Homo sapiens: one gene and its partners. The protein of the gene in region 1 purifies or fractionates together with the protein of each later gene. This does not show direct contact. Each region holds a gene or a part of one and is shown in the gene's direction. Other genes may lie near its edges.

Region 1 (3,655 bases):
ATATGTTTATTTATGTCTGTCTCTTCCATTTAGACAGGATTGGGTGCGTTCAGGGTGGTATGGTCGTAGACTATCTCCTCCAATTAGAATGTAAGCTGTATAGAACAAAGTCTTTTGGTTTCGGTTGTTCGTGGATATATTGCCAGCACCCCGAACAGTGCCTCACATATAGTAGGTGCTTGGTGTTTGCTGAATGACTGGGTTAATCGGTAATGAATGATGGTCAGGTAGGTGGGAGCCAAGCCTACAAAAGATTTTAAAACCATCCTAACAGCAGTGGGAAGAATGGGAAGCTACTGGAGAATTTTAAGGACAGGGCTGATCAAATCAAATATGTGTTTCTGGAAGGTGACCGTCTGCAGAGTGGAAAATGAGTTGGAGGGAAGCAAGGTCAGAAACATAGAGACCAGTGGGCGACTGTTGAATAAATCCAGGCAAGAGATGATGCTGATCTAGGCTTAGATGGGGCTGTGAAGCATGTGAGAGACAGTCTATGAGGTAAAATTGAATATGATTTAGTAATTGATTGGGTGTTGAGGGTGAGGGCAGGGGATGAGGCAAGAGTACCTCCCAGGCTTAGCATTGGGTGGACGATGGTGCCGTTTACTGAGCTGTGGATGGTTAGCAGTGTAGACCTAGGAGGGAAAGAAAATTAGTTTAGTTGATAACGGGTGAGATTTGAGGTGCCTGTGAGTCATCCAAGAGCAGCTTACAGGAGACACCTGGAGTTAGGGTCTGGCACTAAGGAGAACCACCTACAAAGTACAAATTTGGGGGACCGTTGGAACGTGGAGACAAAATGTCTGTTCCCCCTTATTTAGTGTTTATCACACACTGCCTTTGTTGTTAATGACCTATTGATACGTAGCATTATAGCTCCCCACTTGGATTATTAGACCCCTTTCCAGATGCCCAGACATGTAGCCTTCCAAAAACAGAAGTTATTTAAATGGACTAACTTCATTTTTTTTTTTTTTTTTAAGACGGAGTCTCGCTCTGTCGCCCAGGCTGGAGTGCAGTGGCACGATCTTGGCTCACTGCAAGCTCCGCCTCCCGGGTTCACACCATTCTCCTGCCTCAGCCTCCCGAGTAGCTGGGACTACAGGCGCCCGCCACCACACCCGGCTAATTTTTTGTATTTTTAGTAGAGACGGGGTTTCACCGTGTTAGCCAGGATGGTCTCGGTCTCCTGACCTCGTGATCCGCCCGCCTTGGCCTCTCTAAGTGCTGGGATTACAGGCGTGAGCCACCGCGCCCGGCCTATTTATTTTTATTTATTTATTTATTTATTTTTTTGAGACAGAGTTTTGCTGTTGTTGCCCAGGCTGGAGTGCAGTGGCGCGATCTCGGCTCACCTCACCTCAACCTCCACCTCCCGGGTTCAAGCGATTCTCATGCCTCAGCCTTCCCAAGTAGCTGGGATTATAGGCATGCGCCACCAAGCCCGGCTAATTTTGTATTTTTAGTAGAGACGGGGCTTCTCCCTGTTAGTCAGGCTGGTCTCGAACTCCCAATCTCATGATCCACCCGCCTTGGTCTCCCAAAATGGTGGGATTACAGGCGTGAGCCACCACGCCCAGCCAACTTCATGTATTTAAATGGACTGGTGGATTGAAATCTGAACTCTACTGCCTGAATTTAAAGGCCCTCCAGTCTGGCTTCACCTTTCCCACGTACCTAGCATTATTTCTTGCTATTGCCTAGGAGACTCTTATATCCAAGCCTTATTTTCTCTGCGTCTGGAACACACTCCTTCTGCTCCCAAACTGCCCATCCAGCTCCTAACTGTCCTCACCACTCATCCTTTAAGTGCATATGTTGTCTCTACTACTCATTGTGGCATATAATCAAACCCGAATATGTGTAGAATAGTGGTGAAGAATGCAGTCTAGACCCAGACTACCTGTCTTGGGCAAATTACCCAACTTCTCAGTGCTTCAATGTCCTCATTTGAAACTGGGTATAGTAATAGTATCCACTTCTTGGGTTTATTCTTATTTATTTATTTATTTGCCATTGTTCCATAAGAAGGTTTATTTTATTTTTTTTAATTTTATATATATTTTTTGAGACGGAGTCTCGCTTTGTCACCAGGCTGGAGTGCAGTGGCGTGACCTTGGCTCACTGCAACCTCCACCTCCTGGGTTCAAGTGATTCTCCTGCCTCAGCCTTCCAAATAGCTGGGACTACAGGCGCCCACCACCACGCCCAGCTAATTTTTGTATTTTTAGTAGAGATGGGGTTTCACCATGTTGACCAGGGTGGTTTCGATCTCTTGACCTCGTGATCTGCCCGCCTCGGCCTCCCAAAGTGCTGGGATTACAGGCGTGAGCCACCGTGCCCGGCCACTTCTTGGGTTTATAAGGATTAAACAGTTAACATGGGTATAGTGTTTAGAAGTTCCTTCTACAGGCCGGGAACAGTGGCTCACGCCCTGTAATCCCAGCATTTTGGGAGGCCAAGGCGGGCGGATCACGAGGTCAAGAGATCGAGACCATTCTGGTCAACATGGTGAAACCCCAACTCTACTAAAAATACAAAAAATTAGCCGGGCTGGTGGCTTATGCCTGTAGTCCCAGCTGCTTGGGAGGCTGAGGCAGGAGAATGGCATGAACCCGGGAGGCGGAGCTTGCAGTGAGCTGAGATCCAGCCACTGCACTCCAGTGTGGGTGACAGAGCAAGACTCCATTTCAAAAAAAAAAAAAAAAGTTCCTTCTACATAACTGAGTATGGTATGTTAACTATTATTTATGGCCATTGCTTTTCTTATTGTTTCCTGTATATACATTTTGTTTCTCAAGCATGATTGCAAGCCCCTGGGGACAGGGAGCTAATGCATTTGTTTCACTGCACATACCTGCGTCTATCACAACCACATGTGAGGCCTGTACTACATAATGGCTAAAGTTAAACTGACGAAATCCCTCAGCTACCTTTTGCTGTGCTCATCCATTTAGTCTCCCCTCTTCTAGGTCCAAGAATGCCTCAGGATGGATCAGATGACGAGGACGAGGAGTGGCCCACCCTGGAGAAGGCTGCCACAATGACAGCAGCGGGCCATCATGCAGAGGTGGTTGTGGACCCTGAGGATGAGCGTGCCATAGAGATGTTCATGAACAAGAACCCTCCTGCCAGGTAGGCCTGGGGATTTGGGATAATGAGTCCTTGTAGAAAGTTCCCACAGGAAAACAAGTTCCCTGGCAGACTTATGATTCCCTACCTTTGGAAAGGGCCCTGGAGTTGCTAGCTGTAGGGGACCACCTTGACAAAACTGGCCCATCCTCAAAGGACCACTGTGAGTAGGAATGACCCAGCCTCAAAAAACATTGTGTCCTTATGTCCATTTGTTGTACAACTGCCCAGTTGCCAGGGAAACAGTTCCAGGCCCCTTTTACACCTCTGGGGAGAGCCATCCTATTGCATTTGGTTTTGGTATTCTTAGTTTTTTTAGCGGTAAGCTCAACTTCCTTGGACAAGTCTTCATATCCTAAGCTTCATTTAAGCCAAGGTTTTTCAACCTCAGCATTATTGACATTTTGGGCTGGGTAATTTTGTGTGTGTGTGGAGGCTGTCCTGTGCAGTGTAGGAGGTTTAGTAGATATCTCTGATCTCTACTTCTAGACTCCAGTAGCAACCTTCCCCCAGTTGTGAAAAC
Region 2 (2,600 bases), on another chromosome or scaffold:
AGGGCTTGCTGTGCGGAGGTAAGTGTCCTGAGACCTAATGGTCATGACCTTTTGTGTGTATCAACATACATGTCTGCCATTTGTTAATTTAGCAGATGAACTGTTACAAAGTTACAGGATCTGCTAGTCTCCCAGGGTTATAATAAGATACTAAGTCATGCCCTCACTGAACTGGCAGGCTAACAAGACTACTAAAGCAGCAAGAACTGTAAAGGGTGGTCAGTCCTGTAATGGAGAAGTGTTCTGGGTGCTTTGGGAGTTAAACACAAATAGAACTGTCCAAGGAGGGGACCAACTCCTGTTGGTCTTCTTGAGAAGGCTTTACAAAGAGCCCTGTTGCGGGGGGCGGGGCAGTGGGCAATGAGGAATAATTAGGCCTGTTACTGGGTGTGTTACGTATCCCTAGGTAGAAGTGCCTTAGTACTAGTTAGGATACCATGAAACTTTAGTAGCAATCATTCAAATCTGCTTAGTGTGTTCACTCTTAAGATGGTATTGTGAAGAGATAAGATAGACCTGATGCAAAATAGCTTAAAATCTAGACACTTAACCTCTGAGTTGCATGCAGATAGTAGTAATGTGAGGGTCTACTGGTAAGATTTCAACAGGAAGTTCTTTGTGCAGTTTGACTGTATGTAAAGGCACTGAAATGCCTTGCCTAGAGGAATGACAGGAAAGCTGTGCTGTAGGAAGGTTGACTGGTAGGGATGGGTAGTGTAGGCAAGGCTCTAGGTAAGGACATAGAAAAGACGGCTTACCTGGTTTGAGTGCCAGCTAGGCTGCTTAGAACAATGGTTCTCAAGATTAATGCCAGCCCCAGACCCACCAAATGGGAAACTGGATGTGTGACTCAGCAATCTGTCTTAATAACCCCTCCACATGCTGTTTGCACACATTGAAGCAAGTTAATGAACCTCTCAGCCTGGGATCTGTTATCTTCTAAGGTGGACCATTATACCACCTCTCAGTTGTGGAATATTAAGTAAGATAATGTGAAAGGGCCTGGAGGTGGCTAGCTCTCCAGTTAGTATCTCGCAGAGCGTAAACTGCCGAATGAGTTGGGGGGTAGGTCATATTTTAAAGTGTTTTATCAGCGTTCTAATAGCAAGATAGCCAGGATCCTAGGTGGGTAAGCTTTCCTAGTGAATGAGACTTCGGAGGTTGCAGAGTATTTCAAGGGACCACAAAGTGGGTAATTGTGGAGTGTAAATGTGGTTCTCAGTTTTGGTTATACATGAGAATCACCCAGGGAGCATTTTTAAATAGATATTCCTGGACTTTGCACATTTAATTGGCCTAGAGTAGGGCCTAGATGTCAGGGTTTCTTTTGTTTTTTATTTTAGCCTTCTGAGGTGATTCCAGTATGCAGCCAGGGTTGGAAAGTACATATTTAGGAGCTTGACATACTTGATGAATATTACCCTAAGGTTCGGAATGATAGGTGTGGAAGAGAATTGGTATTCTTGGGGCCGGACTCTGGTCAAATTATTCTCCATTAAAGGAACATTGAAAACCAAGTCTTTGTTTTGTTTTTTAAACTTGGTGGAGGTCCTTGGCAATAACACAGTGGCTCTCTTCTGTTCTTTTAAAGGGCCTGCTATGGTGTGCTGCGGTTCATCATGGAGAGTGGGGCCAAAGGCTGCGAGGTTGTGGTGTCTGGGAAACTCCGAGGACAGAGGGCTAAATCCATGAAGTTTGTGGATGGCCTGATGATCCACAGCGGAGACCCTGTTAACTACTACGTTGACACTGCTGTGCGCCACGTGTTGCTCAGACAGGGTGAGCAGCTGAGAGTGCTTGGCAAAGGGCATTTGTGGACAGATTTGGTTTTCCACAGACATCTTAAGTATTTGGGGGAGTTTATCATGGAAGTAGCTGGGCATGTTCATATTCCTTGGTGTATCGATTGCCACGTTGATCTGTAAGAATCGATTTGCTGAGATCTGTCAGATCCAAGAGTTGGTTTGTCCTTGTTTTAGCCATCTGTGTACCCTTCAGTGATGACACGATGACGAGTCAGAAAGGTCACGTCCTGCTCTTGGTCCTTGTCAGTGCCATGTTCTGTGGTGCTGTGCACGAGTTCCTTTGGCAGAAGTGTCCTATTTATTGATCGATTTAGAGGCATTTGTCTGAGAAGGGTCCAGACCCAGGGGTGCTTGAGTAAACTGCTTGCTCTCTTTGGTCTTGTGTGATGGGGGCCTTTGAGACCCCAGCTGTGTGCTAACAACTGTGGTGTCCTCTAGGTGTGCTGGGCATCAAGGTGAAGATCATGCTGCCCTGGGACCCAACTGGTAAGATTGGCCCTAAGAAGCCCCTGCCTGACCACGTGAGCATTGTGGAACCCAAAGATGAGATACTGCCCACCACCCCCATCTCAGAACAGAAGGGTGGGAAGCCAGAGCCGCCTGCCATGCCCCAGCCAGTCCCCACAGCATAACAGGTATGTCTGCAAGGGCAGGGGCCTCTTGGGGCATAATAGGGTCCTTCCGAGTCTTTCTGTTAATACTTGTATCCCACATTCTGGTAAGCGTTTGGTGAATAAAAATTTCATTTATTTGCTTTATGTGGGAGAATACAAGTTGAAACCTGGGGTCTATTTA
Region 3 (2,911 bases), on another chromosome or scaffold:
CACCACACCCCTAATCCCCTCGGTGAGTGCCGCCGCCTCGCTCACACCACACCCCTAATCCCCTCGGTGAGTGCCGCCGCCTCGCTCACACCACACCCCTAATCCCCTCGGTGAGTGCCGCCGCCTCGCTCACACCACACCCCTAATCCCCTCGGTGAGTGCCGCCGCCTCGCTCACACCACACCCCTAATCCCCTCGGTGAGTGCCGCCGCCTCGCTCACACCACACCCCTAATCCCCTCGGTGAGTGCCGCCGCCTCGCTCACACCACACCCCTAATCCCCTCGGTGAGTGCCGCCGCCTCGCTCACACCACACCCCTAATCCCCTCGGTGAGTGCCGCCGCCTCGCTCACACCACACCCCTAATCCCCTCGGTGAGTGCCGCCGCCTCGCTCATACCACACCCCTAATCCCCTCGGTGAGTGCCGCCGCCTCGCTCATACCACACCCCTAATCCCCTCGGTGAGTGCCGCCGCCTCGCTCATACCACACCCCTAATCCCCTCGGTGAGTGCCGCCGCCTCGCTCACACCACACCCCTAATCCCCTCGGTGAGTGCCGCCGCCTCGCTCACACCCCCAACCCCCACCCCGCAGCACCTCTTCCCCGATCCCACTGCCTCCACCCCCCACTCCCCTGCCCTGCATGTGGTCTCCAGCTTTGTGTCCGTGGGGGCTGTGGGAGGGGACAGCAGGGGCAGAGGCCACACTCCACAGACTTACACTCAGTGTGGGCAGGGGGTAGGGTGGGAGCGAGGTCACTGCAGCTCCAGCCTGTGTCTGTCTGTCTGCAGGGGGGGCCCTCAGCCTCTTGGCCTTGAACGGGCTGTTCATCTTGATTCACAAACACAACCTGTGAGTGTCACCAGGGGTGCAGGTCTTCTTCCCAGTCTGCCCAGCCCTGCTCCTCTGTCCCCTTCCCACCCTGCCCCACGGGGTCCCCGCTTTCCTCACAGGCCATGGTGTTGGAGTCCCTGGGCGGGAGGAAGGGGCGCCGAGTGAGACCCTGGCCTTGGAGGCCTCAGTTCCCGGGCCCTGCTCCATCCGCTGCTCCTTCCCCCCGGCCCGCAGGGAGTACCCTGACTTCTACCGGAAGCTCTACGGCCTCTTGGACCCCTCTGTCTTTCACGTCAAGTACCGCGCCCGCTTCTTCCACCTGGCTGACCTCTTCCTGTCCTCCTCGTGAGTACCAGGGCACCTGGCTCTGCCCTGCTCTGTGCGGCTGCAGCCTGGGGCCAGGGGAGGGTGGTGGGGGCTAGCAGTCCGGGCCCTGTCTCACAACCACTGCCCTGCCCAGCCACCTCCCCGCCTACCTGGTGGCCGCCTTCGCCAAGCGGCTGGCCCGCCTGGCCCTGACGGCTCCCCCTGAGGCCCTGCTCATGGTCCTGCCTTTCATCTGTAACCTGCTGCGCCGGCACCCTGCCTGCCGGGTCCTCGTGCACCGTCCACACGGCCCTGGTGAGTTGCGGGGCCCTCGGAGGCTGGGCTGGAGCTGGGGCGGGGGTGCCTGGTGCTGTGGACGGCAGACAAGGGCCCACGTCTCATTCCTAGAGTTGGACGCCGACCCCTACGACCCTGGAGAGGAGGACCCAGCCCAGAGCCGGGCCTTGGAGAGCTCCCTGTGGGAGCTTCAGGTGAGGGCGCTGCTGCCACACCCTGGGGCCTCCCGAGCCATCCTTCGGCCCCTCAGAAAGCCCAGCTCCCCGTGCCACCTCCCGCATAGCCTCATGTTGCGTCCCCAGCTGGCCACCTGGGTTTGTGGGTGCTGGGTGCTTGGCCTTCTCACGTGGCTCCGTCCCGACCCCGCCCACTCTGGTTGGGAGCACAGGGAGGCCATGGCTGGGGGCACAGGGCGGGGGCCTGGGGCAGCTGCCTCTTAACGGCCCTACTGCCCCAGGCCCTCCAGCGCCACTACCACCCTGAGGTGTCCAAAGCCGCCAGCGTCATCAACCAGGCCCTGTCCATGCCTGAGGTCAGCATCGCGCCACTGCTGGAGCTCACGGCCTACGAGGTGCGGAACTGGGCCAGGGTGCGAGGGTCTGGGCCACGGGGCGCTGAGCCAAGCCTGAGAGCCGCCGTGCTTTGTGCTTTGCAGATCTTTGAGCGGGACCTGAAGAAGAAGGGGCCCGAGCCGGTGCCACTGGAGTTTATCCCAGCCCAGGGCCTGCTGGGACGGCCGGGTGAACTCTGTGCCCAGCACTTCACGCTCAGCTGACCCTGGCCCACCTGTGAATAAATCTCAGCTGACCCCAGCCCACCTGTGAATAAATGTTTTTGCAGGAGAAAGGCTCAGGGAGTGTGGACTGGGGCGGCTGGATGCCTCTGCCAGGCCGAGGGCCTCACATCTGCCTGAGCCCACCAGGCACATGGCAAAGCGAGGCCCCTGCCGACTCCACAGCCTGGGAGGGGATGGTGGGGAACCTGAGGCGTGGTCTTTCCCAGGGCCTCCGGCCCACCAGTGTCACCGGTCACCCAGCCTCCCTCATCCCCTGGCCCCAGTGACCTCCCTGTTGGCAGAGCTCGGGGCCTCTGCTGAGGTTACACTCCAGACACCTGGGAGGGAGCAGGGTTGGGGGGGTTCTCTCTGCCTGGGTCAGTTGTGGTGGGAGGTGTATGGTGGTGTAGACGGGTATGGTGTGTGTGGGAGTGAGGGGAGGTGGTGTGAGTGGGGGGTCAGTGTGACTGGGGGGAGTTTGGTTGTGAGTGGGGGTGTTGGTGTGAGGGGAGAGTTGGTGTGAATGGGGGGGTGGTGTGTGTGGGGGGTGGGTTAGGATTAGTGTGAATGGGAGGTTGGTTTGAGTGGGGGGTGTTGGTGTCAGTGGGGGGTTGGTGTGAGTCGGGGGTTCCTGTGAGTGTCAGCATCCCACGCTGGCTGTGTCCTGCCGATCTGGCCTTCGTTCTGGGAGCCCCGCG

Evidence for each region.
Region 2: the proteins of BYSL (region 1) and RPS3 purify together in Homo sapiens (affinity purification with mass spectrometry; 6 studies listed by BioGRID and IntAct, with this or other methods). This does not show direct contact.
Region 3: the proteins of BYSL (region 1) and NOC4L purify together in Homo sapiens (affinity purification with mass spectrometry; 4 studies listed by BioGRID and IntAct, with this or other methods). This does not show direct contact.

Annotation. Positions count from the first base shown.
Region 1 is NC_000006.12:41,924,402-41,928,056, forward strand, and holds part of BYSL (bystin), read left to right. Parts: intron 1-2,972; coding exon 2,973-3,135; intron 3,136-3,655. UniProt on the Homo sapiens protein: Required for processing of 20S pre-rRNA precursor and biogenesis of 40S ribosomal subunits. May be required for trophinin-dependent regulation of cell adhesion during implantation of human embryos.
Region 2 is NC_000011.10:75,402,429-75,405,028, forward strand, and holds part of RPS3 (small ribosomal subunit protein uS3), read left to right. Parts: coding exon 1-18; intron 19-1,591; coding exon 1,592-1,779; intron 1,780-1,992; exon of another isoform or gene 1,993-2,138; intron 2,139-2,243; coding exon 2,244-2,437; 3' UTR 2,438-2,440; intron 2,441-2,600. UniProt on the Homo sapiens protein: Component of the small ribosomal subunit. The ribosome is a large ribonucleoprotein complex responsible for the synthesis of proteins in the cell. Has endonuclease activity and plays a role in repair of damaged DNA.
Region 3 is NC_000012.12:132,150,189-132,153,099, forward strand, and holds the end of NOC4L (nucleolar complex protein 4 homolog), read left to right. Parts: intron 1-792; coding exon 793-853; intron 854-1,069; coding exon 1,070-1,180; intron 1,181-1,295; coding exon 1,296-1,456; intron 1,457-1,549; coding exon 1,550-1,632; intron 1,633-1,895; coding exon 1,896-2,009; intron 2,010-2,093; coding exon 2,094-2,213; 3' UTR 2,214-2,280; downstream 2,281-2,911.